Homo sapiens: one gene and its partners. The protein of the gene in region 2 purifies or fractionates together with the protein of the main gene of each other region. This does not show direct contact. Each region holds a gene or a part of one and is shown on either strand. Other genes may lie near its edges.

Region 1 (11,080 bases), on a different chromosome or scaffold from region 2:
CTAGACTGGATTATACAATACAGATATTGCAGGAATGGCATTCTCTCTTCAAATGCTGTTAATATCCTTATATTTCTCATTTTAAATTAAAAATATAAAGAAGAATTATAAGAGAAACCCCTTTATTCAGGAGCAATACCATTTCCAAATTTTAGATTCATCTTCTCCAATTAGAAAGGTAGGAAAGTCAGAAAGGAGAGAGAAATGTATCTCATGGTACTTGACTCATATCAGATAAGGCCCATCTTTTTTATGTATAAAAAACACATAGCCTTACTCCCACAATCCCCAAACACAAAGGGATTATAATTTAAAATGGGTTGTTTGACCTTCTAAATCTCATTCCCGCTTTACAGGACATATGGGTAAATAAGAAATACAGTAAATACTATCCCAGGGATGTAACAAGCAAAGTCTAGAATTTGGAGAATGCTAGAGGAAAAACAACCTGGTTTCCTCAATAATTTCATTGCAAAGAAAATAAAAGGGGAAAGAAGAACCTACAGAATAAAAATGACTGGCCAGGCACGGTGGCTCAAGCCTGTAATCCCAGCACTTTGGGAGGCTGAGGTGGGTGGATCACCTGAGGTCAAGATTTCGAGGCCAGCCTGGCCAACATGGTGAAACCCCGTCTCTACAAAAATACAAAAATTAGCCAGGTGTGGTGGTGGGCGCCTGTAATCCCAGCTACTTGGGAAGCTGAGGCAGGAGAATTGCTTGATCCTGGGAGGCAGAGGTTGCAGTGAGTCGAGATCGTGCCATTGCACTCGAGCCTGGGCAACAGACAGAGACTCCGTCTTATAAAAAAAAAAAAAAAAAAAAAAAAAAAAGACCGAAGGGACCAAATGCAATGCATGAACCTTGTTTGAATCTGATGCAAACAAATTAACTATAAAAAGAATATTTATAAGACAACAGGGATACATAAAAACTGACTAGATATTTGAAGATATTAAAGATTTTTTGTTAATTTTTTAAAGATGGGGTAATGGTGTTACTTGTTTTGCTAGGATAGCTTGGATTTCCTTTAAAATAACCCAGGACAGTGGTGGGAAGGGGAGGGAGTAGGGGTCGTGATGGAAATAGCTGAAACAGGAGTGGCCACGAGCTGGTAACTGTTGAAGTGGGTGATGGGTACATGAAGGTTTATTATGCTCTTCTACTTTTTGTATACGTTTAAAACTTTCCATAATAAAAAAAATATTAACTAGTTTTTGGAACTTGACTCTAATTTCCCAAAGGAAATATTATAAATGGTGATTAATTATACAGACTATGTCACACAGGCACATTTAATACACAATGAGACTGGATGATGAAATATATCTATCATAAAGATCTAACTACCACTGTTTCTGTGTGAAAAAGACCTTCCAAGCTCCAGCCTATAGCCTCAGGAACACACCCCCCTTGAGATAACTCCACTAGTGACAATAATTCCAGCTCCTCCCCCTAATATTATTACAGCACACAGAACAGGCTCCATATATGTAGTGACAGTTGGGTCTGTGAACTAGACTTCTGTGAGGAAAGAATTTCTTGTAAGACGTCAGTTTCAAACTTCTAACAATAACACAGTAGTCTACATTCCAAAATTCCTCCAAGTGAGGAAGCATGAGTTTCTTCTAAATCTGTCAGCAGGTCCCCAAATTGTCTCTGCTATTTTTTCTATGAGGTAACATGGCGGGATAAAATAATTTGTGTTAGATACATAATTATAAAGTCTCAATGTCAAAAACTATTATGGAATGGTATTAGATTATTAAATGGGAAAGTACAGCTTCCTCCCCTGGATACCTTTAAAAGAGGACAACACTTATCTGAATTAGATGTTCTGATGAGAAGCAAAGAGTAGGAATAATTTAGGAGACTAGCACCTAAATGATCACAGCTCTCACTGCATTATAGAAATAGCCTGCCTTTTCAACCTTACCCATGAGTACGAGTCACAGTCACAATCAAATGATGTCCAGAAAAAGAGAAAAAGAAAGCAGGCCATCTTCAGCCCTTGAGCAGTTTGTAGCTATAGCAGTGACACTGTACCTGATTGGGTGATCTCCACAAGTCTTGGGCCGCTCCATGACAGATACCCACTTGTCATCATAACTGAAGAGAGACAAATCCAGATAGGGGCTACCGCTGTAAGACTGAGCACTGATGGGGAGCTGACCCAGCAGCCGGCGTACTGCCTCTGTGTGCCCTCCATACTTGGCATTTATAATAGTGTCTTTGAACCTAAATGAAAGGACCGGTGAGGAAGGCTTTGTTAGTGAGTACACAAAGCTGTCTTGAATTTTAAATTGACAAATATATGTCTAAGAACAACTCATTCTTTAAATACAAATTAAAACCTAGGTAATGAATTAAGATAGAACTGTCTCTCACACATTACAAGTCTGGCCAGCTACAAATACTTTTAAAAAGCAAAACATATAACTAAAAATGGAAAACAACAAATTACTTTAGAAATGTGTTTGGGTTTTGGGTTTTTTTTTTTTTTTTTTTGAGACAGGGTCTCGCTTTGTTGCCCAGGCTGGAGTACAGTGGTGTGATCTCAGCTCACTGCAGCCTTGACCTCCCAGGCTCAAGTGTTCCTCCCACCTCAGCCCCCAGAGTAGGTGGGACTACAGGCACGTGCCACCACACCCAGCTAATTTTTGTATTTTTTATAGAGATGGGATTTTGCCATGTTGCTCAGGCTGGTCTTGAACTCCTGGGTTCAACTGATCTGCCCGCCTTGGCCTCCCAAAATGCTAGGATTACAGATATGAGCCACCACACCCGGCCCTACTTTAGAAAAGTTAACAAAGACTCTACAAACAAGTTTAAAATGAGTATAACTAGTTTATGGCAACTATTTCTACTCTTTTCTAATAACAGCTCAACTGGGGAAAAAGGTCAAGAACTTATTTTCCCCAAATAATTGCCTTAGACTGAATTAGGAAGGAGTTACAGAGAACCCTGAACAGAAGCAGCCTCTGACTCTTCTTGGGATCACCAACTTCTAGCAAGCCTTTCACAAATAAATTACGCATTCTTTGTTTGTTTAAATAAAATTTGGAAACTAGCTACCTATATTCCTGCAGAGACACCAGTATCTAGAAGAATAGTAACATACATAGAGTCATATATCTGACTTATCTTTGAAAATAATAACAGAACAGTTATTTCTCATCACTGTCACAAATGCTAAATTTTATTTTATTTTTATTTTTTGAGACAGGGTCTCACTGTGTTGCCCAGGCTGGAGGGCAGTGGCACAACCCCAGCTTACTGCAACCTCCACCTCTCCTGGGCTCAAGCAATCCTCCTACCTCAGCTTCCCAAGTAGCCAGGACGACAGGTGCGTGCCACCACACCCAGCTAATTTTTTTTTTTTTTTTTGTAGAGACAGGGTCTCGCCATGTTGCCCAGACTGGTCTTCAACTCCTGGCCTCAAGCGATCCACCCACCTCAGCCTTCCAAAGTGCTGGGATTACAGGCATGAGACACAGTGCCTGGCCACAAAACTAAATTTAATACTCTTTGACAAGTACTTCTATTCTTCTGGAAATTTACCCTAAGGAATCACTCCTACATGCAGAAAAATCTCTGTGTACATTCATACAGCATTGTTTATAGAGGAAGAAAAAATTAAAAAGCTAATGGAAAACTACCATTTTCAAAGATTATATGGTAACAGGGGAAATGTTTATCACATTTACAAATAAAAGAAGTAGGATACAATACTGTCTATATAATATGGCTAAAAACACAAAGAAAACAAAAACTCACACTTAAAGCAAAGACTGGCAGAAACACATTAAAATGTTAATAGTTGTATAATGACATTTTGAATTTTTTCCTTATTTTTCACTATCCTACAGCTTCTTAGAAAGAATGTCAACTGTCTATCAGTATATATTTTTTAAACCTCTATATTCAAGCATATCATATGGTTCAACAATCAAGGGGATATCAATTTTTTTTAGTCTGGGAGAAAAGTATAATATCTCATCCCTGAAACAAATGGAATAAAAAACTTCAGTGTTCCTAACTTTCATGAGACCACAAAGATTAATTAGTTGGGGGTAATTTTTATTTTCACTATTAACCTATGGTATTAGATGGACATGAACACTTTTCTGCTCCCCCTAAAGAAAGCCTAGCAAGCAACACTGCTTTTCCATTACTCCTACTGACAGTAATTTTCACAGCCTCAGTATAAATCATAAAAATAAATCTTGGGCCAAATAGAGCTTATTTTTTCCCTTTCATTTGAGCTGAAATAAAAGATCCTGGGCACTTCGGTTTTCAGCAAGACCTGGCACCATCTCATCTACACCTTAGCCCTGCCTGACTCACCGACTCCCTGGCTTTCAAAGGTAAAATGATGGGGGCTGGCTCACAGCTTTGTGATGACCACAAATCAAAGCATCTGTGATAATCTACAAGTTGAAACAGTTCCTCTTCCTCCACAGCACCTACCACCTCCACTCTCCATGCTCCCCACTGATTAAAAGCAGTCACTCTCTTCGATGTCTTCACACTTTAGTTCCTGCCCCAGTGTCACTCTGTCCAGCTATACCTCTCTTAGTTCTCGGTAATTTCAAAATCCTCAGAAAGGTTCTTTACAGCACCATAGCCTCCTGCTAGTTCCTTGACCTCCTCTCAACCTCAACTGCTTATTCCACAGTCACACCCTCAACCTCACCATTACCAACGACTGCAAACCCTCTCTAGTCACAGGGTAGACCGTCACGCTCTCCAACCATCTTCTCTCCCATCTTTCCAGCTCACTCCCTCTATTCATCCCAACTTCAGCAATCCTTTAACCCCCACAGGACCTATAATCCACTGATTCTACCAACTTCTTCCCATCCTACACTCATCATATCCTCTCTTCCTTCCTTCCACATAGATGAAATTACTAAATCACTCCGTTGCACACATCCTCAACAATCTTAAATTCTCTTGCTTTGTGGTACTTGCTTAGAAAAACTACAGCCTCCAGTTAAGCTCAACTCTTCCTATTCCGTGCCTGTACTACTTGGTTTTCTCCATGGCTGTAGAAAAAACATACAATGCTCACTTTAAACTTATGGCCATGAACTTTATGTGGGCCCTTAATGCTGCAGGGCACTCATGCTGCATTTCCATAGTCCTTCCAGACTCCCATGCTCTTTCATGACTATTTCATCTCCCCTCCTCCATGCTCACTCTTAGCCAATGGCATCGCTTACTTTGTTACTAACAAATGGAAGTTAGCAGAAGATAACTTTTTTAAAGCCCCCATCAGCACATCTACCCAACATTTGTACATATATAACTTTCTGCGCTCCCATGCAAGGCAAATCCCTCTGCCAGTGCACTAGCACCCAACCCCTCTCATACACTTAAGCAGTTCTTCCACTTTCCTAAACTGTTTCCCCTTCTCTACAGGATCAGTCCCATCTGTATGCAAACATGCCATTTTTTCCCTCTCATCTAAAAAATAACAAAAACAAAATCTAACACTACCTACCCCTCCAGCTAATGCACCACTTTTCAGCTCCCATTGTAATAAAACTCCTCAAAACTCTTTTCCATACTGTCCAACTTTTCTCCTCCCATTCTTTCTTAAACCCACCCTAAAGAGGCTTTCACCCCTACTATCTCACTCAAACTACTCTTGTCAAGGTCACCAATGACCTGCACATTGCTAACTCCAATAAGTTAATTTTCAGTCCCTATTGTACTTGACTCGTCAGGTGGCTGTGACACAGCTAACACTCCTTTGAGAAACTATGAGATATCTCTACTTACAGAACTTTTGATCTTCTCCCCTAAACCTGCTCTACCCACAGGTTTACAGTTTAATGGCAACTCTCTCTTGCAAGCTGTTCAATCCAGAAACATTAGAATTATCTTTGACTTTGTTCTTTCATGGCCCATAGACCATCCTCCATTAATCAATTGGGCTCTAACCTGCAAAATACATTGAAAATATAATTACTTACTATTCCCAATGCTACCACTCTGATCCAAGCCACCACTGTTAAACAACAAATAATCAATCACAGAGGACTTGGTATGTGCCAGACACTCTTCTAGGTGCTTAGGATACATCAGTTGACAGTAAAGAACTTAAATCCTAGTGGCAGGAAACAGAATGCCATAGCTATTACTTACTGGATCACTGCAATAGTCTCTTAACTGGTATCCCTGCTGCCACCCTACCTGCCTACATTCTACTCTTAACAGAACAGCCAGAGTGACTCTGTTAAAACATAAGTGAGACTACATCACTCCTCTGCTCAAACATGACACAATCTACCTCATCTATAGTTAAAGCCAAAGCCATAGAATGGCCTTATGTATCTGCCTACCTCCCCACCCCAAATCAGGTCTCTGACCCTATTTCCAAGTACTCTGCCCCTCGCTCACTCCAGTCCAGCCACCCTGGCCTTCTTGTTGTCCCTCAAATGCATCAGATCTACCTCAGGGCCTTTAGATATGCTATTCCTTTTGCTGGGTATATTCTTCTTCCTGCTATCCACATGGCTTGCTCCCTGACTTCCTTCAAAAGCTTTCTCAACCACCACCTCCTCAGTGAAGCCTATGCTGACAACTCTACTAGGAAAACTGGCAATCTCTTCTTAATATACTCAAACCTACCAGTATTCTAACAATTTTGTTTTTTCCTTGGACACACTTTTCTTGGACTCCTCCACTTTCGTGCTTCCAAATGGTCTGACAGGTGGACAGTCATTCTGCAAATTCCCTTTATCATTATCCTCAAGACTCTCTTTGCCTCTCTCCAGTGTCAGACTATTTCCTACATACCATTCTTTTGTGGTCTATTGAAGTACATCTCCATAGGCTTCCTTAGAAAAGGTACATGAGAGGTAATCTTTTCAGACTTCACAGGTTTGAAAATGTCTCCATTCCACCCTATTATTTGGATATAGAATTCTAAATTGCAAATCACCCTTTTCATAGAATTCTGAGGGCATGATTTTAATGACTTCAAGCTTTCAGTATTATTGATGTCTGATGTCATTATGATGACTTATTGTTTTTACATGTGAAATGTATGTTCTTTCTCAAAGTTTTCACAATGTTCTCTTTATCACCAATGTTCCAAAATTTCATGATGATATGCCTCTGTGTGTGGGTCTTTTTCATTGACTGTACTGGATACTAGATGAATCCAGTGGTGCGCTGATAAAGGTTTAATTTTTCTTGGGGGAAAAAAGCCATGATTTGTAGTGCTTCCTGCTTTCTGTGGTGTAAATCTTCCTGCCAAGGTACCAATGTGACATTACTCAATGTGCAGTTGCCAAGAGAAGAGCTGTAGCACCTTATTATATAGTATTTACACCATATAGATAAAATAGATGCAAAAACCACAAGAGCCTAAGTAACAGTAAAATCGGAAATAATTTGGAAATAAGTTTTAATAACGACTTTGTTTAACAATCAGCTTGCAAAAATTCCTGAAAGTTTAACAGTCAGATCTCATGAGCCAGGACAAGCCAGCTCCAGAACTGGATGGTCCTGCCAATCTAAAAATTCATGTTCTTCAGTCCTGGGAATCTATCCCATTATTTCTCCACTTTGTGTTCTCCACTGCTTCTTCAGGAATTAGACAGATATTTGGCCTCCTAGGCAGGTACTCTATTTTTTTTTTAAATGTTTCTCTTCTAGGTCCCTTCTCTTATCTATTTACTCTACTTTTTTGGAGAGTTCCTCCACTACATCTAACACATTTTAAATTTCCAAAAGTTTCTCATTGTTCTAGGAATGTTCCTGGTTTTTTTTTTTTTTTGAGTTGGAGTCTCGTTCTGTACCCAGGCTGCAGTGCAGTGGCGCAAATTCGGCTCACTGCAAGCTCCGCCTCCTGGGTTCACGCCATTCTCCTGTCTCAGCCTCCCGAGTAGCTGGGACTACAGGCGCCCGCCATCACACACGGCTAATTTTTTTTGTATTTTTTTTTATTTAGAAGAGACGGGGTTTCACCATGGTAGCCAGGATGGTCTCCATCTCCTGACCTCATGATCCGCCTGCCTCAGCTTCCCAAAGTGCTGGGATTACAGGCATGAGCCACCGCGCACCCGGCTGGAATGTTCCTGTTTTTATACTTTCAATTGATTCAGCGAATGTAACATTGTTTTTTTTTTCTTCTTCTTTTTTTTTTTTTGAGATAGGGTCTTACTTTGTCACCTACTCTGGAATGCAGTAGCTTGATCTCGGTTCACTGCAACCTCCGCCTTCCAGGCTCAAGCAATCTTCCTGCCTCAGCCCCTCCAAGTAGCTGAGCCGACAGGCGCATGCCACCACACCCAGCTAATTTTTTTGTTTTTTCGGAGACCAGCCATGTTACCCAGGCTGGTCTTGAACTCCTGAGCTCAAGCGATCAGTCCACGCCAACCTCCCAAAGTGCTGGGATAAAAGGCATAAGCCACCATGCCAGACCTGTTTCCTTACTCTTTATTCTTTATTCTGTTTGTTTTGTGTTGGTCACTTTTAGGATAAAGGCTTTCCTGAAATGACTCATGATCCTTGGTGACCATTTTTATTCTTGAACATTTATTTTGACCTATAAGGGTCCCAATTTCATTGATTTTTACCAAAAGATTGCTGGGAAAAGATTACTATAAAATTTAGCATTTAGAACCATGTGTTCACAAGAATTAAAAAAAAATTTCAGCTCCCTCTCACTCTTGTCTCCCCTTTCCACGGTCTCCCTCTCCCTCTTCTCCCCTTTACACAGTCTCCCTCTGATGCCAAGCCGAGGCTGAACTGTACTGCCGCCATCTCGGCTCACTGCAACCTCCCTGCCTGATTCTCCTGCCTCAGTCTACCGAGTGCCTGGGATTGCAGGCGCGCACCGCCACGCCTGACTGGTTTTTGTATTTTTTGGCAGAGACGGGGTTTTGCTGTGTTGGCCGGGCTGGTCTCCAGCTCCTGACCGCGAGTGATCTGCCCGCCTCGGCCTCCCGAGGTGCTGGGATTGCAGACAGAGTCTCGCTCACTCAGTGCTCAATCTTGCCCAGGCTGGAGTGCAGTGGCGTGATCTCCGCTCGCTACAACCTCCACCTCCCAGCCGCCTGCCTTGGCCTCCCAAAGTGCCGAGATTGCAGCCTCTGCCCGGCCGCCACCCCGTCTGGGAAGTGAGGAGCGTCTCTGCCTGGCCGCCCATCGTCTGGGATGTGAGGAGCCCCTCTGCCCGGCTGCCCAGTCTGGAAAGTGAGGAGCGTCTCCACCCGGCCGCCATCCCATCTAGGAAGTGAGGAGCGCCTCTTCCCAGCCGCCATCACATCTAGGAAGTGAGGAGCGTCTCTGCCCGGCCGCCCATCGTCTGAGATGTGGGGAGCGCTTCTGCCCCGCCGCCCCATCTGGGATGTGAGGAGTGCCTCTGCCCGGCCGCCCCGTCGGGGATGTAAGGAGCGCCTCTGTCCGGCCGCGACCCCGTCTGGGAACTGAGGAGTGTCTCTGCCCCACCGCCAGCCCGTCTGGGAGGTGAGGAGCATCTCTGCCTGGCCGCCCCATCTGAGAAGTGAGGAGCCCCTCCGCCTGGCAGCCGCCCCATCTGGGAAGTGAGGAGCGTCTCCGCCCAGCAGCTGCCCAGTCCAAGAGGTGGGGGGCAGCCCCTGCCTGGCCACCGCCCCGTCCGGGAGGTGGGGGGCGCCTCTGCCCGGCTGCCCCGTCTGGGAAGTGAGGAGCCCCTCTGCCCAGCCGCCACCCCATCTGGGAGGAGTACCCAACAGCTCATTGAGAATGGGCCATGATGACGATGGCGGTTTTGTCGAATAGAAAAGGGGGAAATGTGGGGAAAAGAAAGAGAGATCAGATTGTTACTGTGTCTGTGTGGAAAGAGGTAGACATGGGAGACTCCATTTTGTTCTGTACTAAGAAAAATTCTTATCCTGTTGATCTGTGACCTTACCCCCAACCCTGTGCTCTCTGAATCATGTGCTGTGTCCACTCAGGGTTAAATGGATTAAGGGCGGTGCAAGATGTGCTTTGTTAAACAGATGCTTGAAGGCAGCATGCTCCTTAAGAGTCATCACCACTCCCTAATCTCAAGTACCCAGGGACACAAACACTGCGGAAGGCCACAGGGTCCTCTGCCTAGGAAAACCAGAGACCCTTGTTCACATGTTTATCTGCTGACCTTCCCTCCACTATTGTCCTATGACCCTGCCAAATCCCCCTCTCCAAGAAACACCCAAGAATGATCAATAAATACTATTAAAAAAAAATTTTTCAATGTATATATACATTATATTTTCAATGTAGCAAAGTATGATTAGTGGTCAACAAAATATGTTAGCATACAATTCTGTTGGGGAGACAGAAGAGACATATAAATTTGAGAATCAGAAGAAACAATGTAAAATTCCCAATTATGGGTATAATTTGCTGTGAATTTTTCATATAAAATACTTGAATACCAAATTACTACGGTAATTAGCATCCTTTTGTTATATTTTAAAGTGTTGGAATAACTTTAAGTATCAATGTTTAATATCCACTGAAAATAGCATCCTCTGCAACTGCTTAAATTTAGTAGTAACAGGAAAAAAAAATTTAAAAATCGACTTAAAAATATGTGAGGGTACCCCCAATTTTTCAAAATCTTTTGGTGGTACAGTAAAATTCTGAAGATCACTGAGCTGGAATATACAACCTTTCTCCTCAGTTTTTTCTGGAGCTTTCTGTAATTTTGTTTAATTCCAGATGTATTCTGAAATAATTTTTGGAAAACAGAGTTCCTTCTAATTCCTGGATAACTTCATTCATTCAGCAAATACCTACAGAGCTCCTCCCACAGGGCAGACACTGGCCTTGGTGTTGTGGATATGGCAGTAGACATAACAGACAAAATCCCTGCCCTCATGGAGCTTATCATCTAGTGACTTCTTTGATGTTTTGAGTGAGTGTACCCATCTTTTGTTCTTTTTGTTTTTTGTTTTTGAGGCAGGGTCTTGCTCTGTCACCCAGGCTGGAGTGCAGTGGCATGCTCATGGCTCATTACAACCTTTGCCTCCCAGGCTCAAGTGATCCTCCCACCTCAGCCTCCCTAGTAGCTGGGACTACAGGCATGCACCACCAC
Region 2 (9,018 bases):
ATTCATTTATTACATAATTTTTAAGTATAGCCAGTAGCAACCCGTCAAAGGAAGTCCAGTACTTAAAGCAAATGTATCTTCCTCCACAGCCCCAAACAAAACAAAGCACATTATAAAACACTCAGAGGTATGCAGGCCATTTATTTTATTTTATTTTTTCTCCAAATACTTTGAACAAAGAAAAAAATAAAGGAAAACTAGGATTTACTATCTCAGCTTTGTTCCTGATAGTGCTATTTTTATGTTTATGGTCATTTCATCATTTCACCTTTAAGATCTTAATTTTCTTTGTATGAAGGACTAAAGTAAATAAATGTATGCCAGACTCCTCTGTTTCTGGCACAGTGCTCTGTGCTGGAGACTTCCATCCCAACCTTGCAATGGGCTTTCTGAGGCGCCATTCCTGTCTCCATTTCACAGCAAAGGCCACTGAGAGGTAGTCTAAGAAACAGGTCCAAATTCATAAAAACTACTAAATGTTCATTCTTTCAAACCTAGGTACATTCAGATTATTTGAATTCTCTAAAGTGGTTCCTCTTACTTAAATTCAGGGCAAAAGAAACAAAAAATGTTCTAAATTTGAATTCAGAGCAGCAGCATTCATTGACAATTGTTACTTTTCCCTCAAAGATATAACAATACTTTATAACCCAGGAACACACTGTTGCCCCACATCAAAAATCAACTAGCAAATGCCTTGTTGATATACAGGAACATGGAGGTGTTGTGTCACCTTCAGCTTTCTAAAATCTCATACCTTTACACACACCCATACAAAGTGACTATCAAAGTTAATAGAAAGAACTGTATTCATCCACCCATCCCCCCACCCCGGGTTTTGAGAGCATCTCAGCATTGTCTATTAACAAGAGGCGTATTCATCTCACTCAGTTGTTTATAATTTTCTAGGGAAGCATTACTCTTCAGAATTTAAGTTTGGGGTATGTCATACCCTATAAATTATGCTACTTCTTTATTCCAGGCAGTTGTCACATTTCTTTTTCTCATTTCCTCCCTGTGCATTGTGTATTTTAAATTCCTTTCACTTTTTTACACCTCTTACTTCAATTTGACACTTTACACACATCCTTAACTCTGTCTAATGCATCTTGCCTTCATTTTTAAAAGTGATGTACCCAGGATACTGTCCTTTTGATCCATCTTTCATTTAAATGAGGCTGTGTATCCTTTCTTTCTTTCTTTCTTTCTTTCTTTCTTTCTTTCTTTCTTTCTTTCCTTTCTTTCTTTTTCTTTTTCTTTCTCTCTCCTTTCTTTCTTTCTCTCTCTCTTTTCTTTCTTTCTTTATTTCTTTCCTTTCTTTCTTCTTTCAACACACACTGCCAAAAAAGAAAAAAAGTAAAGAATCCATTTATTCTGTGAATCAGTGAATTACTAGTCTAGTCTTATTGGGAATAAAGCACATTTTTCTTTTAAATTTTGAATTTAGTTTTTCTACCATTTCAGATATGTAATATTAAGAGGGACAGTGTACCTTAAAAGTACAGATTTGTAGATACTACCTTTTAAAATGCAGAAAAAAAGCTTTCAATATGAAATGCCTGCATTAAATAATTGACTTTTTTTCAAAACAACGATGTAAGTTTACCTCTATATTAAGACAAGCAAATTCCTGTGCTTCCTAGCTATATCTGGAATTAATTAATTATTATTCAAGGTCAACATTTTGCATCTCCCTTGACTGAACTGTAGTTTATTCCACAAAGTAAAGACTTTTTTTTTTTTATGTGTATCTGCTATTAGTTGTTTGCTTTTTTGGGCCAGAGTTACCCATCCTTTCCTGTATATTAAACCACGTTTTTGGCTTTTTCCTTCCTGTCCTTCCCCATCTGGCGATGGTGAGGATGGGTTTTTCTCTTCCATGTTATCATCAGGTGGCTGGAGAGAGATATGTCTACAAGTTTGTGTGTGATCCAGAAGCCCTTTTCTCCATGGCCTTTCCAGATAATCAGCGTCCACTGCTGAAGACAGACATGGAACGTCACATCAACGAGGAGGACACAGTGCCTCTTTCTCACTTTGATGAGAGCATGGCCTACATGCCGGAAGGGGGCTGCTGCAACCCCCACCCCTACAACGAAGGCTACGTGTATTAACACAAGTGACAGTCAAGCAGGGCGTTTTTGCGCTTTTCCTTTTTTCTGCAAGATACAGAGAATTGCTGAATCTTTGTTTTATTTCTGTTGTTTGTATTTTATTTTTAAATAATAATACACAAAAAGGGGCTTTTCCTGTTGCATTATTCTATGGTCTGCCATGGACTGTGCACTTTATTTGAGGGTGGGTGGGAGTAATCTAAACATTTATTCTGTGTAACAGGAAGCTAATGGGTGAATGGGCAGAGGGATTTGGGGATTACTTTTTACTTAGGCTTGGGATGGGGTCCTACAAGTTTTGAGTATGATGAAACTATATCATGTCTGTTTGATTTCATAACAACATAAGATAATGTTTATTTTATCGGGGTATCTATGGTACAGTTAATTTCACGTTGTGTAAATATCCACTTGGAGACTATTTGCCTTGGGCATTTTCCCCTGTCATTTATGAGTCTCTGCAGGTGTACAAAAAAACCCCAATCTACTGTAAATGGCAGTTTAATTGTTAGAAATGACTGTTTTTGCACCACTTGTAAAAAGGTATTTAGCGATTGCATTTGCTGTTTGTTGTTTTATTTTGCTTTATATATGACTTGCAGAGGATAACCATAAAATGGGTAATTCTCTCTGAAGTTGAATAATCACCATGACTGTAAATGAGGGGCACAATTTTGGACTCTGGCGCCAAACTGAGTCATAGGCCAGTAGCATTACGTGTATCTGGTGCCACCTTGCTGTTTAGATACAAATCATACCGTCTTTTAAATATTTTGAAGCCCATTTCAGTTAAATAATGACATGTCATGGTCCTTTGGAATCTTCATTTAAATGTTAAATCTGGAATCAAAATGAAGCAAAAAATATCTGTCTCCTTTTCACTTTCTTCAGTACATAAATACATTATTTAATCAATAAGAATTAACTGTACTAAATCATGTATTATGCTGTTCTAGTTACAGCAAACACTCTTTAAGAAAAATATCCAATACACTAAATAGGTACTATAGTAATTTTTAGACATGGTACCCATTGATATGCATTTAAACCTTTTACTGCTGTGTTATGTTGATAACATATATAAATATTAGATAATGCTAATGCTTCTGCTGCTGTCTTTTCTGTAATATTCTCTTTCATGCTGAATTTACTATGACCATTTATAAGCAGTGCAGTTAACTACAGATAGCATTTCAGGACAAAATAGATGACTCAAACCATTTATTGCTTAAAAAATAGCTTACGCCATGCTATGCTATAAGCAGCTTTTATGCACATTGACAAATGAAGAGTAAGCTTCAGCTTGCTAAAGGAAACTGTGGAACCTTTTGTAACTTTTGGTGATATGGAAAATTATTTACAAACCGTCAAAGAATATGAGGAAGTTGCTGTATGACATAGTGCTGGCACTGATATTATCCATCATCTCTTTTTGGACACTTCTGTAAATGTGATTGGATTGTTTGAAAGAAGATTTAAAGTTTCAAAGTTTTTTGTTCTGTTTTTGCTTTGCATTTGGAGAAAATATTGAAAGCAGGGTATGTTGTTTCATTCACCTTGAAAAAACCATGAGTAAATGGGGATATAGAATCTCTGAATAGCTCGCTAAAAGATTCAAGCAAGGGACATGAATTTTGTTCCATCTATCAATAATATCCAGAAGAACAACTTTTTTAAAGAGTCTATAGCAAAAAGCAAAAAAAAAAAAAAATTCTAAACACAAAGTCAAAATAAACCTATTGTAAAAGCATTTCGTGATGAGCATGAAAAAGATTGTTTAAAGATGATCCCCCCAGCTACCCATTTTCCAAAACTACACAGATCACAGCTCATTTCTCTAAGTGGAGCAGTTATCAAGAAACCCAAACACCAAAATTGCTACTCTTCACATTTAATCCTACAAAAAGTACTCCAATTTCAAAATATGTATGTAACCTGCGATTTCAATGATTGTTGTTCATATACATCATGTATTATTTTGGCCCATTTTGGGCCTAAAAAAGAAAACTATGCCTTAAAAATCAGAACCTTTTCTCCCCACTATGCTTATGTGGCCATCTACAGCACTTAGAATAAAAACAGATGTTAAAATATTCAGTGAAAGTTTTATTGGAAAAAGGAATTGAGATATATAATTGAGATTTGGTGAAATTGAAGGAGAAAATTTAAGTGAGTCTTTAAAATATATTCTGAATGAAAACTGTATTGAGGATTCATTTTTGTTCCTTTTTTTTCTTTTTCTCTTTTCTCCTTTTTCTTCTTTTTAATAGTCTAGTTTTAGTCAGTCAGTGAGGAAGAATTGGGCCATGCTAACGTTATCACAAGAGAACAATGGCAGAAATGGTATTAGTTATATAATATTTAAGGACAAACTATATGTTTTGCTGTTTTAACGTAGTGACTCACTGAACTAAATACATAATTGACCAACATTAAGTGTATTTCCAATACAGAAGGGTTGAAAATATTACATTATAAACTCTTTTGAAAAATGTATCTAAAATTTTTTAAGTTCTGTTTTGATTCCACTTTTTGGTTGAGTTTTTATGTTTTTGTTTTCAGGTAGATTAATAAATCTGGCAGCTGATTTCTGCAAGATTCTTGTGTTTTGAATTTCTCATTGAATTGGCTACTCAAACATAGAAATCATTTGTTAATGATGTAATGTCTTCTCTCAGCTTTTATCTTCACTGCTGTTTGCTGTCTCTTGATGATGACATGTTAATACCCAATAGATTAATTGCAACAAACACTTATACTCAAATAACTAAGTAAAAATAATTTTTCTTGTTATGTCCATGAAAAGTGCTTCAGAATAAAAATCCACAAGACTGACAGTGCAGAACATTTTTCTCAAATCATGGGCGGATCTTGGAGGTCTAGTTTCCCGTAGATGCTGTAACCAATTACCACAACTTCAGTAATTTACACAAATTTATCTTATAGTTCTGGAGGCAGAAGTTCAAAAGAAGCCTTAAGAGACTAAAACCAAGATGTCCTTAGGTCTGGTTCCTTCTGGAGGCTCCAGGGGAGATTCTTCCAGCTTTCACTTCTAGAGTCTGCTGACATTCCTTGGCTCCTGGCTACATCACTTCAATCTCTGCTTCCATGGTCACATACTCTTCTACTATAGTCAAATTTCCTTCCTGCCTCTTATAAGGATGCTTGTGATTACATTTAGGGGATGCTCAGATAATCCAGGACAATCTCTCCATCTCAAGATCCTTAACTTAATGACGTGTGCCAAGTCCCTTTGGCTAGATAATTATTCATAGGTCCCAGGGATTAGGACATGGATGTAAGGGGTGAGGGCAGGGCTGTTATTCAGAACACCGCACGGAGGAGGAAGACTGTGTAGCAAAGACTCTAATTGATTTACTCAGGAACAGTGGAGTTCTGCTGAGGGATCTAGGATTTGAAAGTACTAGAGTTTGCTTTTATTTACCACTGAGATATTTTCCCCTTATTCTGCATAAATAATTTTGAAAACTTTCTATATTAAATTTCAACTATTCCACTAAAATGTCTGGTAATCACATCAAGCCTTTAGATTATTCAAATCCTTCCCCAGCCCCCAGGAAAACACTAAGTCATGAAACAGAAAAACAGAAGGTATGATAATAATAGTAATAACAGTTAAATCAGTGGTCTAATCCAGATTTTATTTTTTAATACATTTCTTTTGGTGTTAATATGGGTTACTATGTGATCTTATCATTTGCTAGTGATTATTACTTATTAGGTAAGAACAATGTGTAAAATATGTCTATTACTCAAAAGAACAATTGCAAAATGAGTCAACTTATCTTTATATAACCAGGAAAGAAATATATTGCCAGAAGCTACAGAATTTTGCCAGATGATAGGGATTTCTAAAATGAGCCACTTTGTCTATCATGCAGCCTTTTCAGAGCTTGTAATGAGAAAACATTACAGAGGAGAAGGTCATTTGGATGTTTGTTACTTGGAATCCTAGAAAACAAAAACTAAAATTTAAAAATAAGAAGTGAGTAAGCTATTTTCCATTTGCGATTTGGTATGGAGAAGAGAGGAAATAGAATTATTAAAAAAATACAAATTGGGTAAAAGTGATGGTGGAAAAAATATAAAGAAGGCAAATGTACATATTAAGCAATTCTACTAAGAATTGGAAAAATCAAGTTTCAAAAAGATGGTAATAGTTGGGCATGATACTAGAAAATTTCACCCAGTTTATTCAGAGCTCAACTAGTACTTTTAGGACTTCTTTTTTTATATACATGAGACTCACTTTGACATACTTAAAAAAAAAACAGTTTATGGAAAGTACAGTTTAAGAGGAGAATTTGATTAGACTAAGTGGATATCTTTATAGAAATATTAATGATTTCAGAATTTTCAGTTACAAGTGTATATACCGTGGCTATTGTTTATGGATTCATATGTAAGGTAGGGTCTTTTTTGCATATAGACTCCAGTATTAGTTACTTTCATTCTAAAATTATATTTATGCTTCTATGGGGAAGAAAATTTTTAATTCACTTGGTTGTATTAAAATTATACTTACGGTTTGAGAAAACATGCTATGAAAATCATGATTATAGCAAATTAAATATGCTCAAAATTTAAATCTAAAATAAAAGCCCAGAAACTGAAAATATTGGACTGTCGTGATCACTCTGAAAGGTAGCACATCTAAAACTGATAAACGTCATCTAAATTTTTGACTGTCTTCTAATCATCGTGTCATTTTTAATAGTTTATGACCACAGCACTCAAGTAATGTGTTTGCACTACTTTGCCATATATTATTCTTTTAGATAATTTAGATACCAGGACACCTGATAAATCCTTTTTGAGTTCTACGTTCTAATCTCTGTAAATATCTTGTTTCACATAAATCCTTCAATAAATGTATCATGGAGAAATTTGGGGAAGGGAACTAACTAAATTATTTCAGTGACTCCCACATGCCAGACAGCACAGATATGTGAATTATGTTACTGCCTCCAAATTGCTTGGTTTTGTCTGGTGAGAAACTGAAGCTAATGGCAAAACCAGTATGTCTTGGTGTCAAGATGTCGTGGTCACAGGCAAATCATGAACCCTACCTTTTGGGGAACTTGGACCTAGCTACTTTTCTGATTTAATTTCTAATGACAAAAATATCTATAATAATAACAGATTCTGCTGAAACACGGTGTTATTTAATTTTTTTTCTTTTTTGAATATTCCTTGTAGAAAAATCTAAAAAGAAATCAAGCACTATTTAAACAACAGCAACAATAAACTGAGTTGTTTTTTAAGTGTTTTTAAGCATTCAGAAATCAAACTGATTGAAGTACCTCTTTGTTTCTTTCCATTGGAGATGGGTACAGCTTAATGAAGAAACAGAAATACTAATCAAACTCTTCAGAAAGTTATATACACTGTCCCCATAATTTATATTATTAGACAGGACTTCTGAAAGTAATAGAATTTTCGGGAAACTTTTAAAGCATGGAAGATTCAAGTCAAATGATTCAGAAAAAGCCAAAAAATTGTTTTTAAAATAGAAAGTAAGACTAAAGGCCGGGCGCGGTGGCTCACGCCTGTAATCCCAGCACTTTGGGAGGCTGAGGCAGGCAGATTACGAGGTCAGGAGATTGAGACCATCTTGGCTAACATGGTGAAACCCCGTCTCTAGTAAAAATACAAAAAATTAGCTGGACATGGTGGCGGGCACCTGTAGTCCCTGCTACTCGGGAGGCTGAGGCAGGAGAATGGCGTGAACCCGGGAGGCGGAGCTTGCAGTGAGCCGAGATGGTGCCACTGCACTCCAGCCTGGGCGACAGGGCGAGACTCTGTCTCAAAAAAAAAAGAAAGAAAGAAAGAAAGAAAGTAAGTAAGACTAGAAACATAGAAATTATTGTATGAAAGAGTACTGTTTTAAATGACATTTCTGCAAAGGGGACTATGGCATTCTTGTACACATTTAAGTAACATTAAAATTATTTGTCTTATAGAAAGTTTAATGTGGGAATTTAATTGGCAATGTTGGTGGGAAGAAAAAAATTAAGATTACACATGTGACATTACTTTTTTTATTTTTATTTTTCTTTGAGACAGGATCTCACTCAGTCACCCAGGCTGCAGTTTCATGCGAACACGGCTTACTGCAGCCTTTACCTCCTCCCAGGCTCAAGCGATCCTCCCACCTTAGCCTCCCATGTAGCTGGGACCACAGGTGTGCACCACTATTCCCAGCTAATGTCTCTGTTTTTTTATAGAGGTGAGGTCTCACAACTTTTTTGACTGTTTTTTGTTTTTTTTGTAGAGATGGGGTATCCCCATGTTCTTATGTTGCCCAGGCTGGTCTTGAACTCCTGGACTCAATTAATCCTCCTGACTTGGCCTCCCAAAGCGCTGGGATTACAGGTGTGAGCCACCATGCCTGGCCATTACTTTTTAAACTGCAAAATACTATTCTACTTTCAGTGACCACAGAACTACTTTTCTTTATTCTTAAAAATATTTGCAAACATTACGTTCTTTAAACAAATATTTTTATACTTAAAAAAACTGCAGTAAAATGTATATGAAATACTACTCATCATTTTAACCAGTTTTAAGTGTACAATTCAGTGTCATTAATTACATTCACAGTGTTGTGCAACCATCACCATTATCTATTTCCAAAGTGTTTAGATTTTTTTATTCATAAAGTATTATCAAAAATGGTCAAGGAGACCAGGTGCAGTGGCTCATGCTTGTAACCCCAGCAATTTGGGAGGCTGAGTCTGGTGAATCGCCTGATGTCAGGAATTAGAGACCAATTTGTCCAAAATGGCAAAACCCTGTCTCTACTAAAAACACAAAAATCAGCCTGGCATGATAATCGGCACCTGTAATCTTAGCTACTCAGGAGGCTGAGGCAGGAGAATCA
Region 3 (11,080 bases), on a different chromosome or scaffold from region 2:
GTGATAACAGTACCTACCTCCATTGGTGGTTGGGACGATGAATGAGATTGTGTCAAGCACTGAGCTGCTGCTGGAACACTGTCATCATCATTGCTGTTCAGGCATAAAAACTCCTTGTCAGCTTGAGTTCCTAAAATAAAACAAAGGGAAAACACTTCCCATCCCCATGTATACACCCCAGCAAGGTCTTTGTTCTTAGATTTGCAATTAGAGGTGACTCAGAGTATTTTTAGGCAACTCCAAAAATTAGAGTATCCCCATAAACATGAAATCAAATTGAGGGTGATTGTGGTTTCTTGGTATTTTGTCTGTGATATCTTCAGAAGCTTGGCCTTAGTTCATGTCATTTTGGATGAGAGAACCTGGGTGATCAGAAGTGTTTCTAGTGTACTGTTTGTGTGCCAGACACTGTGCTAGGAAAAGCAAATATGAGGTGTGGTCCTGCTCTTAAGAAGAAATGTGGAGGCCGGGCGAGGTAGCTTATGCCTGTAAACCCAGCACTTTGGGAGGCTAAGGCGGGCGGATCATGAGGTCAGGAGATTGAGACCATACTGGCTAACACGGTGAAACCCCATCTCTACTAAAAGTACAAAAAATTAGCCGGGCATGGTGGTGGGCACCTGTATTCCCAGCTACTCGGGAGGCTGAGGCAGGAGAATGGCATGAACCTGGGAGGCAGAGCTTGCAGTGAGCCGAGAGCGTGACACTGCACTCCAGCCTGGGCAACAGAGTGAGACTCCGTCTCACAAAAAAAAAAAAAAAAAAAAAAAGAAAAAGAAGAAATGTGGATATTCAGTCCTTCAGGAGTTCCCCAGAGGGGACAGTCAGTCTACCCCGCATGACACCAAGGACTTCCTCAAGCTGGTCAGATGAAGTCCCCCTGTTTTTTGTCTTACTCGAAATACCTTTCAGCAAGGAAAATGGGTCTAGAGTTTGCTACCATTGTGTCCATCTCGCAGCCACAACATTGGTGGCAGTACCCACTTACTGAGCCCTGGCAGTGCATGACCTAAGCACAGGACATGGATTGTCTTATTTACTTCTCTTGGGCTGTGGGGGAAAGATTACTAGCTCCCTTTTACCGATGAGGAACTAGAGACCTGGAGAGGGTAAGCAGACTGCCCCAGGTCCCACAGCTAAGACAAGGTGGCTGGGGCCTGAACCCAGCAGTCTGAGGTCAGAGTCACTCTTAGCCATCATGTGACTGTCGGGAGTACTGCATCCCGACAGTCCTCTTTTCTGAGAAAAGAGGAAAGCAGGAAGGCACTTGAGGAAAACAGGTGTCCTGGATACACAGAACCTGTATGGCCTCTGGAGCCTGCCAAGATTGACCTCTTTCTAACTTCCGCCATCTTAGATATCAAAAGGGGGTTCTGTTGGTGATTACTGGAATCTGGGTGCCATGGATTCCCATTTTTGCTGCTTGAGCACTGGGCTAAGAGGGCCCTTGGGCTCTAAATGCCCAGACCTGATCTGAATCCTTTGCATTATGATCAAAGCATTAAGCCTTCACCTGAGATGTTTTAGCTTCAGCCTCTTGCTGGTCCTGGCATTTGGCACACAAGAGGCTGCACAGTGCTGACCTGCCCCATGGTCTAGGCTGCCCAGGCCTCAGTCCTCTCTGGCCCGCACATGCAGGCTAATTCCAGGCTCCCTCACTGGTTTGAGTGTCCCACTCCAGAGGAGAGTCCCAGGCCCTGGCCTTGGCCCTGCCAAGTTCACAGCCAAGCCCTGCGCTACCCCCTTGCCTCCCAGGACCGCACCTGTGAAATCGTTGAGGACACAGAATCCAGCCGGATGGTTAAGAAGATGAAGAAGCGCATCTGCCTCGTCCTGGACTGCCTCTGTGCTCATGACTTCAGCGATAAGACCGCTGACCTCATCAACCTGCAGCACTACGTCATCAAGGAGAAGAGGCTCAGCGAGAGGGAGACTGTGGTAATCTTCTACGACGTGGTCCGCGTGGTGGAGGCCCTGCACCAGGTGAGGCCACACCCTGCTGCTGCGCCTTCTGGCCACAGAAAGCCACCTTTCTTGCTGCTGCTGAGCAGAAGGCAGCTCTGTCCTGTGCACCCAGGTGTGCTTTGCAGCTGGGAGTGTCCAAAAGAAGAGTGACTGAATGGCAGGTGCACAGGGTGAGGCACAGTGCCACCCTGCAGGCCACCTTCCTGGTGAGGGCTGACCTGCAGCCCAGCTGTGGTAATTACCACAGCCAACTGTGTTAATTCCCCATCAGTTAAGAGGCCTGGTGTCCACCCCCATGTAGTGATGACAGTGAGATACCCACCCAAGCAACTACAGCACATCTGAGCTTTTTGTAGGATTAGAGGTGTCAGGCACGCTGGGACAAAGGATAGGAGAGCCTGAGCCTCTTCCCGGTGTGCCGCTTCTGTGGGCCGAGCCTGTGGTACTTAGTCACAAAGCCATGACAGCTCCTCCCCGACCCCCAGATCCATCCTGTCCATGGAATGTCTAATGGAGGGGAAAAAATGAGTGACTTTCGCCACCAGCCACTGCCCTGAGGGGAGAAAGAGCTAAAGAAGCTGCCACAGATGGGGAGACACTGACTAGGTGCACATTCATTCCCCATCCAGACGCGCAGGTCACGCGAACTTAGAACTGTCCTGATCTGCCTGTGCTTGGAGCCTAAAGAGACACATCATAGAATTTTTCCTGCCTTCTCGAACACCTGGAGAGCCCCCATCTTACAGGGTGGGCCCTGACCCCACCTCTCACATTGACAATGTAAACCATACGCCTGTTGTTTTACAGAAAAATATCGTGCACAGAGACCTGAAGCTGGGGAACATGGTGCTCAACAAGAGGTAAGATCCCTGTCTCTACATCCATACAGTTACCCCGGGGCTGGGGCAGGCTACACATTGCAACTCTCCAGTGCCCTGAAGTGTCCTCATGAGGATTCCGACTCAAAACAACCCACTTCCTCCAGGAATCCCAGGGCTCGGGATGGGATGAACATGGGAATTGGGGGCTTGCTGAGACTGGGAGTTTTGAGCCACAGAAAGGGAGCTCTGGGAAGAACTTTAGATCTCCCTTGTCCATTTATTTGTCACACCTGGCTCCTAGTGGGTACTCATAAAATTACTATAAAAATGGACTAAATGGTCAGGTGCGGTGGCTCCCGCCTGTAATCCCAGCACTTTGGGAGGCTGAGGCGGGAGGATCACTTGAGCCCAGGAGTTTGAGACCAGCCTGGGCAACATAATGAAGACCCCATCTCTACAAAAATATATATATTTTTTGAATGGACAAATGGGGTGAAGGAACGAGCAAAATGATGCCTTGCCATAGGTCAATTTCCTCAGGAAACAGACTCTGAGGTTTACGTGCAGAAGGTTTACTGTGAAGTGCTCTCAGGGTGAGGGGGTGGAATTAGGCAGAGGGAGAAGCTGAACCGCAGTGAAGTCCCAGCAGGGCCTCAGCCTGAAAAACTCGAGAGTGGGATGGCCTGCAGATGGCCCGCGCTTGGCCTTTGTGCCCCCACAGCAATCAGTCACTGAATGTCTGCTGTCCTTAGGGAGGGGCATTCTCTTAGGCAAGGCAGCTTCTTTTGGCTAAGAGGGCCTCCTGGAGAGGGATGCAGCTGTGAGTGGTTACCTGTAAAATGCCACCAGCTCTCTCAGCAGCAAGGAGAGCATGCCTTAGACTTGGAGGGGATCTGGCGGCCCACCCTTGTTGGGGTGAACCAGCAGCAGAGGGACACCAAGCACGGCCCTGGTTTCAGGTTGTCATCCCGCCTCGACAGAGGGTCCTGGGCCTCTTTGGAGTGATCTGGGACAGTGCTACCACTGTCTCACCATGTTAGAGGGACCACCAACCATGTAGGAACCCAGGACCAGCAGGAAGTGGGCCCACTCTGTGGGCTACCATGATCCTTGAAATGCAGGGCTGAGAAGGGCACATCTCCCCCACTCCGCCCCCACCCATTATTTCTGAGCTCCCCTCTGTCACCTCTCAACTCGGCATTGAGCAGGTTGAAGGGCTTACAAAGGCAGCCTGAATCTCACAGCAGAAGTGTTGTGGTGGGTGATTCATTCCATGATGTGGCCAGCCCAGCCCAGGAAGGGCCCGAGGCCCACTGTCCTCTAAAGAGGCCAAAGCCACAGTGGTCAGAGGAAAAGAAGCTGCCTGGAGGTTGGCCTCCGGGGAGGGGGCATTGCCTTGTGCCCCATCTCAACTGATGGGGAATTACTGCTGGGGGTTCCAGATCCCATAGCTCCAGCCTGAGAGGCCATCGGGACGATGCTGTGCACCTCAGCTGCTAAGCATTCTCCATCCTTCGACTAGCACCACCTGGTGCTGGGGCTGCAGACAGAAACGCTCAGTGGTTCCCACTACCCTCTGGAGCCCACCATCTGATGGTGTACTGACCAGAAGATGGTATCATGTGTGGAGGACTGGCGTGCAGAGGGCAAGGGACATGTGGAGGGACAGTGGCTGCCACCTGAGTCAATTCGTGAAGGATGAGTTGGGATTTGCCAGGCTGAGAAAGTGAAGGGATGAGAACCTTGCCCTGCTATGCTCTGCAGGGGGAAGGGAGGGAAACAGGAAATTCCAGAGCTGCTTGAACCCTGGACTGGCTGAGTGAGTGAGTTGAGGAGGACGGAAGCAGCACTGACATGGGGGTCAGACCTGGCTCACTTCCCAGTGCCACTTCTTCGTTATCTTGGAGACCGTGAGAGTGTGGTCCTCTGGGTACTTACTGATTGAATTCATATATTGAGGTACCAAGCACTTCTCTGAGCTTCCATTTCCTCATCTGTGAAAGTGAAGGTCATCCTGGCTTCCTGGGAAGATTGGCCTGAGATGCAAATCAGTGGGTGTGAGGCTGCGTAATATGATGGGGTTTGGCGCATCACGGGCACACCCCAGTGCTAATGTAGCCAGGACTGGAGAGCCTGTCGCTGAGAGACAGGAGAACAGGACCCATGGGCTCACATCTCTGGAGATGAGGCCTGCTGCATGTTGAGTGGCCAACGAGGACACCCCTGGTGAGGGCCCAGCGGTCCCCCAGCCATAGCTCTGCATCATGAGAGGAGGTGGTGGGGAGCCCCGAGCAAACCAGCCCTGGGCTGTGGAGAGCCAGTTGTCATAAAGTTGGGAAATTGGGTCCTGCCCCTTCCCCTGGCCCTCTCTGGGGCCTTGGGCCAGTCCCATCCTGCTGTGGACTACAGGCTTACTGTTCACAAAGAGAGAGCATATTTTTTGGGCACCTAAATCCATCTGGCTGCAGAGCCCATGTGCCCTCCAGCTGGACTAGAGAGCTCCCAGACCTTCCACAGCAGCCATTCATTGGCTGTAAATGAACATCCCAGGGTTGTCATGGGAACTTGCCGGGCTCATGCCTGCTAACCACACCAGCACTCCTGGCCCTTTGTGTCACTGGGGGATTTGCTTCCAACTCTCACTTCCCCAGGGCCCCTTGGTCCTGGGAGTGTAGTCGAGGGGTCGCACCTCCCTGCATACGCCGGCGTGGCTGTAGCAGCTCTGCTGTGAGTGTGAGTGCGTGCTCCTCAGGGTGCAGAATGCCAATGCCTCACTCATACCCAGTGTCCTGGTTGTACTTCCTGAATCTGATAAATCCCCCTTTTTGTGTCTCAGGGCAGACAGAGGTTCTGGCTGCCTTTTACTTGAGTCATGGGCGCTCCAGAGTGGCAGGGTAGTGTGGTGCAGAGAGACTCACTGCTCCGTGTGTGTCCTCTGGCACACCCTCCGCTCTGGGGCCCCACTCTCACCTCGTTCAGTTGACCTGAAGGAGCTCCAGCCCACTCCAGCCCCTTCCCACCCATCATGCCAGGCTATAACTCCACTGGAGCAGTAGGCGGACCAGCTGGAGGCCTTCTCAGCAGAGCAGAGAGCTCTCAAGGAGCAGACAGGGGGAGGTGTTGGCAAGGCAGCTGCAACAACAAGTTCACCCCGCTTTGGATTTTAAAAGGATCGAAATTCGAAATCCTCTTCTGGGGTTATGTGAGGTGCTGTGGGGTCTTTTTCCTTCCTCCTTTCTTTTTGGTAGGCAAGCAACATACCAAGTTCCTAGAAAAGGAGAAAAACACTGTGGCAGCCCAGAGGGCCATAGCTAAAGCGTGACTCACTCAGAGCCGATCCTACTGACACACGTCCCCTCCCTCCGTCCCACTCTGCCATTGCCCCCTCCTGTCAGGACCAGACTAGGGGGTCTGGGACTCCCGGGGAGCCATGCACCCCCCACTTGGGTGGTGGTGGCAGGGCAGGGGAGTGTTGCCAAACCTCAGGAGGACTTGGAGCTGCCCGTGCCACTTCCTGTGGAGAGACTCCAGTGCGCCTGCCGCTCAGCCCTGCAGAGCCTCAGCTGTGCCTGCCCGTGCCCTGGCAGAGGGTGGGAAAGTCCCACCAGCAGTGTTGAGTTGAAAGCTCAGCCACACTGGCATGTGCTCTCCGGGGCCTGTTGTCACACCATGGCACCTCTCCCCTACCGCCTCCAAGACAGAGTCTTTTCCTACCAGGTGTGCCAACCATCGGAGATGAGAGGACACCAGCTTCTACTATTTGCCAGGCATTGGGCTAAGTGCCCTCCATGAGATTATCTTATCTTGCTGAATCCTAACCCAGTTCTGGAGTTTGGTGCTGGGATTTCACTGTTGTACGCATGAGGAAATTGAGGTTTAGCAAGAGATTCACAGAGCAAGGAAGTGGCAGAGCCAGGACTAGGAACCTGGCTCCCAAACCCACCGTACTTTCTCCTGAGCTGTCCTCCTCTCAGCGTCTTGAGCCTCAGAGACCCACAGGATGCATTTGCAGCTTCCGCGGCCATCTCTGACCAGGGGAGAAAACCCACAGTGCCTCTGCTCTGTGGGAACCTTCTGGACAAGAGGCCCGAGCAGCCCCATATTCAGGGCAGCGGCACTGGAGCTTCAGAGCTAGAGCAGCCCACTCCTTGACGTGCAAGTGACCCTTTGCAGTGACCCTTCACCTGTGCGATCAGGCTCTAGCCGCCTGCGGGCCACCAGTCAGACTCCTATGGCAGCTGACAGGGCGGACCTGTATAGGCGCTGGAGTTGGCGTTTCCGTGGGGAATCCAGAGGACGGGCTGGCCTTTGTTTTGCATCGAGCCCTTTGCCAGCAGAATTCCCCGAGATCACCGAGGGCTCTCAGAGCCGCCTGGATGCGGCTCCCGGGGAAATCCGCCAGCAGCCACACATGCCCTCTGCCTCTGAGAGCTGATTGTAGGGAGAGGCAGCCCAAGGCCCCCATGGAGCTCTCCTTCCTGTTGTCCTCCCAGCTTCTCCCCCTAGCTTCTCCACCCAGCCAGCCGACACAGGAGCAGGGCAGTTGGGTAGAGAGGCATCCTTCCTCACTGCCTGCCCCAGTGGGCCAGGAAACCTTTCCCAGGCCTCTTAGACAGGGCCTGCCCACCCTCCCAGCCCCCAGTGTGGTGTAAGGTGTAAGGGTCCTCTCGGGGCACTTCCTTTTGTCCACATGTGAGTTTTCTCCAAAGGATCAGAGCCCAAAGCTGCCCTGCCCCACGCCTTTCAGAGGGAGGGTCTGTGATGTTCTAGCCAGGGCAGAGTCACAAGTACGAGGTAAGGGATGAGTCAGCTTTGATGGAACAGAAGGAAAAGTCATTCGGGGCCTGGGGCCCTGCCCAGGGACACATCTGGGCATGAGGCAGCTGTCAGTTGTGTGTGCAGCTCTGGGGCCCTGCAGACCTGGTCTTGGATCCTGCTCTTCTGCTCACCAGCTGCATGACCTTGGCCAAGTCCTTTCACTTCCCTGTGCCTTTGTTGTATCATCTGAAACAGGACCGTGAGAAAATCCCCCTCATTGGCCACTGTCAGTTTCTTCCTCTGCAGTGGTTGTGGGGCCAAGTGAGAACTGACATATTCCGTGGTTCGGAGGTGGCTCGGGGCCAGCCCTTGGGTCACCTTCCAAGGTGGAGTCACTCACCTCTGCTGGACTTCCTTTTCCTCATGTGTGAATGAGGAAATTGAACTAAATCTCAGGTCACTCCCAGTCTAGAATATTACGTGAGGCTGTTTTTGAGAAATCTCTGAAAGTTGTTCTAAGCCCTAAGCTGTACCCCGAGATTCAGCCCGGGCAGCAGGTCCAGGGATGGCCTGTGCAACACTCAGATACCTGGGAGAGAAGCCGATCCCTGCTGGGACAGCTCGGCTGGTGGCCAGAAAAGTCTGGGGCCTGATTCCTCTGCTCTGCTCCCTGGAGAGGGGGTCGGGGCAGCTGCTTCACCCTCTGACGAGAAGCCTACCTCCTACTGTTCAGGATTGGGTGTTGGCCCAGTGAGGTGTGTCCTGCCTGCGTGTCTTGTGCCTGTTGCTATAGACACTGAGGTTTGTTCACTCTGTCTCCCACTCCTAGGACACATCGGATAACCATCACCAACTTCTGCCTCGGGAAGCATCTGGTGAGCGAGGGGGACCTGCTGAAGGACCAGAGAGGGAGCCCTGCCTACATCAGTCCCGACGTGCTCAGCGGTACGTGTGTGTGCCAGACATTGGGCCTCTAAGCTCAATACAGCCAGGCTCTGTGACAGTCCACTCAGCAAATTTGTGGGCAGGCCCTGGGCAAGGTGCTGGGGCTTCACTGGGGGCCCAGACCAGTACTGTCCCTCCCCATACAAAATGTTTGGTCTGTTGGAGGTGGAAGACGTAATGATAACATGAATGCATGTTTAATTCCTCTGAGGTTAGTGCTAGGGAGGAACGGGATTGCTGTGAGAGTGGATGAAGGGTGCTTGGAGGACTTTCCCCACAAGGTGTGACAGTTGAGCTATGATCTTAAGGGAAACTAGGAATTCCCTGGGTATGTGTGACTAGGCTGAGGCTGAGGGTCCCAGAGGCAGCACAGCACGTTGGAGCAATTGCAGGCTGCTCAGAAAGTGAGCCTGGTTCAAGGGGAAGCCAGAGAGGTGCGCAGGGGCCAGATCAGGCAAGGCCTGACATAGGCCTCAGTAAGAGATGTCATCCTTTACTTCAAGTGCGAGTGGAAGCCATTGAACAGTTCTTAACTGAGTGTGCTGCTGTGAGTTTGTGTTTCAGAGCCCTCTCTCCTTGTCTGTGTTCATTCATTCTGTTACTGTTTGCTGAGGGCCACCCAGGCCCAAAGCTCTGTTCTAGACACTTTGGAGACAACAGGGAACAAAGTAGACAAACATTGCTGCCTTCATGGAGCTGACTTTCTAGTGGGGATGAGACAGATAATACACGAAACAAATAAGTAACTCACAGGCCGGGTGCAGTGGCTCATGCCTGTAATCCCAACACTTTGGGAGGCTGTGGCGGGATCATAAGGTCAGGAGTTCGAGACCAGCCTGGCCAATATGGTGAAACCCTGTCTCTACTAAAAATACAGAAATTAGCCGGGCGTGGTGGCGGTTGCCTGTAATCCAAGCTACTCAGGAGGCTAAGGCAGGAGAATCGCTTGAACCCAGGAGGTGGAGGTTGCAGTGAGCCGAGATTGTGCCACTGCACTCCAGCCTGGGCAACAGAGCGAGACTCCATCTCAAAAAAAAAAAAAGAAAAAAAAAAACTCATAAAGTTACTGCCCACTGATCTGATTTCCAAGTTCCAGACACTGTGCTGAGCGTGACTCGCGTTATCTGTTTAAACCACACAGCTACCCTGTGAGGCCAATATCTATCTTAAGTCCTTTTTTCACAGATGAGGAAATTGAGGCTCAGAGAGATGACATCTCTTGTCCAAAGTCGTAGCTAATAAATAGTAAACTGGAAAATGGAGGCGCAGCCCCAGGGCTGCCTCCCACTAAAGCCCATTCTCGCAACTCTTTCACTGTCGACTCTGTTGCTTTCTCTTTCCCCCTTGTCCTTGGCCCAAATCCTTTAGGGAACCGGGGCTTACACCAGCTCCCATCCCTCCAACATGGAGAACTTGGGGTTGTCTCCAAGATCCTTCATCCCCACCCCACACATGAGTGCGCCCTTTCCGTGCAGTGGCCGAGCCAGCCTCGTCCCAGCTCTTCACACACATCCTGGTGAGCAGGCTGCTGTAATACAAGCACTTACAACTCCCTCGGAGGCTCCCCCAGCTGCCGCTTCTGCTGGAGAGCCAGGCCTGTCCCCAGGGCTGCCCGTGTGCAAAGACAGTAGCACCATTCCCCAGACCTGGGGGTTTTGGTTAGAGTCACTACAGCCTCTGCTAGAGGGAACTGGGTGCCAGGGGTATACCCTAACTCCTGGGGCACCACCCCCATGGCCCAGCACAGTCTGGCACCCTCTACAGTAATCCCCAAAGCATCCCCATAGGAGATAGAGCCAGGCTCCTCCTTCCACCCAGCCTGTGAGTGGGGCTGTGCCTGTTTGCAGGGCTCAGGCTGTGGGCTAGCCCTGGATGGGACTCCTCTCTTGCAGCACCAGCCTAGAGTGGCCTTCATTTGCAGTCTGAGGCTCTGTGGCCCTCCCTGCTGTTGCCAGCAGCCTATCCTTCTGGTTCTTCCAGACTCGTGCCAGTCTTGGAGGATGAAACAAAGGAATCTGACTGAATCAGAGAGAATCCTCGACTGGGAGACCAGAGACCTGGGTTCTCATTCTGGCCTTGCTGTTGAACCAGCTGTGTGATCACGGCCTCCAATCTCCTTCTGACTTCAGCCTCCTCCCTCCTGGGTTAGAAGCTGAAGTACCAGCCCTACCATGTGGGTTTCCGACCCAGGTCTGCCCTTTCATTTATTCTCCATGTGCCCAGCATGGGCATGGGGCATGGAGCTGTGAAAAGGCAGGCCTGGTCTGGCCCTCATGGAGGTGATAGTCTGGCTAATAACCATGTGAATTTGGGGGAAGTTACAGACCTCTCTGAGCCTCCATTTTCTCATCTGTAAAATAGGGATGGCAGTAGTAGTACTTGAGGGATTAAATAATGCCCTTAACCAGCCAGGCGCGGTGGCTCATGCCTGTAATCCCAACATTTTGGGAGGCCGAGGCGGGCAAATCACGAGGTCAGGAGATCGAGACCATCCTCGTTAACTCAGTGAAACCCTGTTTCTACTAAAAATAAAAAAAATTAGCCGGGCGTGGTGGCGGGTGCCTATAGTCCCAGCTACTCGGGAGGCTGAG

Evidence for each region.
Region 1: the proteins of ETV1 (region 2) and DET1 purify together in Homo sapiens (affinity purification with mass spectrometry; 3 studies listed by BioGRID and IntAct, with this or other methods). This does not show direct contact.
Region 3: the proteins of ETV1 (region 2) and STK40 purify together in Homo sapiens (affinity purification with mass spectrometry; 3 studies listed by BioGRID and IntAct, with this or other methods). This does not show direct contact.

Annotation. Positions count from the first base shown.
Region 1 is NC_000015.10:88,514,739-88,525,818, forward strand, and holds part of DET1 (DET1 homolog), read right to left. Parts: intron 2,236-11,080; coding exon 2,044-2,235; intron 1-2,043. UniProt on the Homo sapiens protein: Component of the E3 ubiquitin ligase DCX DET1-COP1 complex, which is required for ubiquitination and subsequent degradation of target proteins. The complex is involved in JUN ubiquitination and degradation.
Region 2 is NC_000007.14:13,888,962-13,897,979, reverse strand, and holds the end of ETV1 (ETS translocation variant 1), read left to right. Parts: intron 1-1,892; coding exon 1,893-2,114; 3' UTR 2,115-6,751; downstream 6,752-9,018. UniProt on the Homo sapiens protein: Transcriptional activator that binds to DNA sequences containing the consensus pentanucleotide 5'-CGGA[AT]-3'. Required for olfactory dopaminergic neuron differentiation; may directly activate expression of tyrosine hydroxylase (TH).
Region 3 is NC_000001.11:36,346,109-36,357,188, reverse strand, and holds part of STK40 (serine/threonine-protein kinase 40), read left to right. Parts: intron 1-1,755; coding exon 1,756-1,983; intron 1,984-2,772; coding exon 2,773-2,825; intron 2,826-8,373; coding exon 8,374-8,489; intron 8,490-11,080. UniProt on the Homo sapiens protein: May be a negative regulator of NF-kappa-B and p53-mediated gene transcription.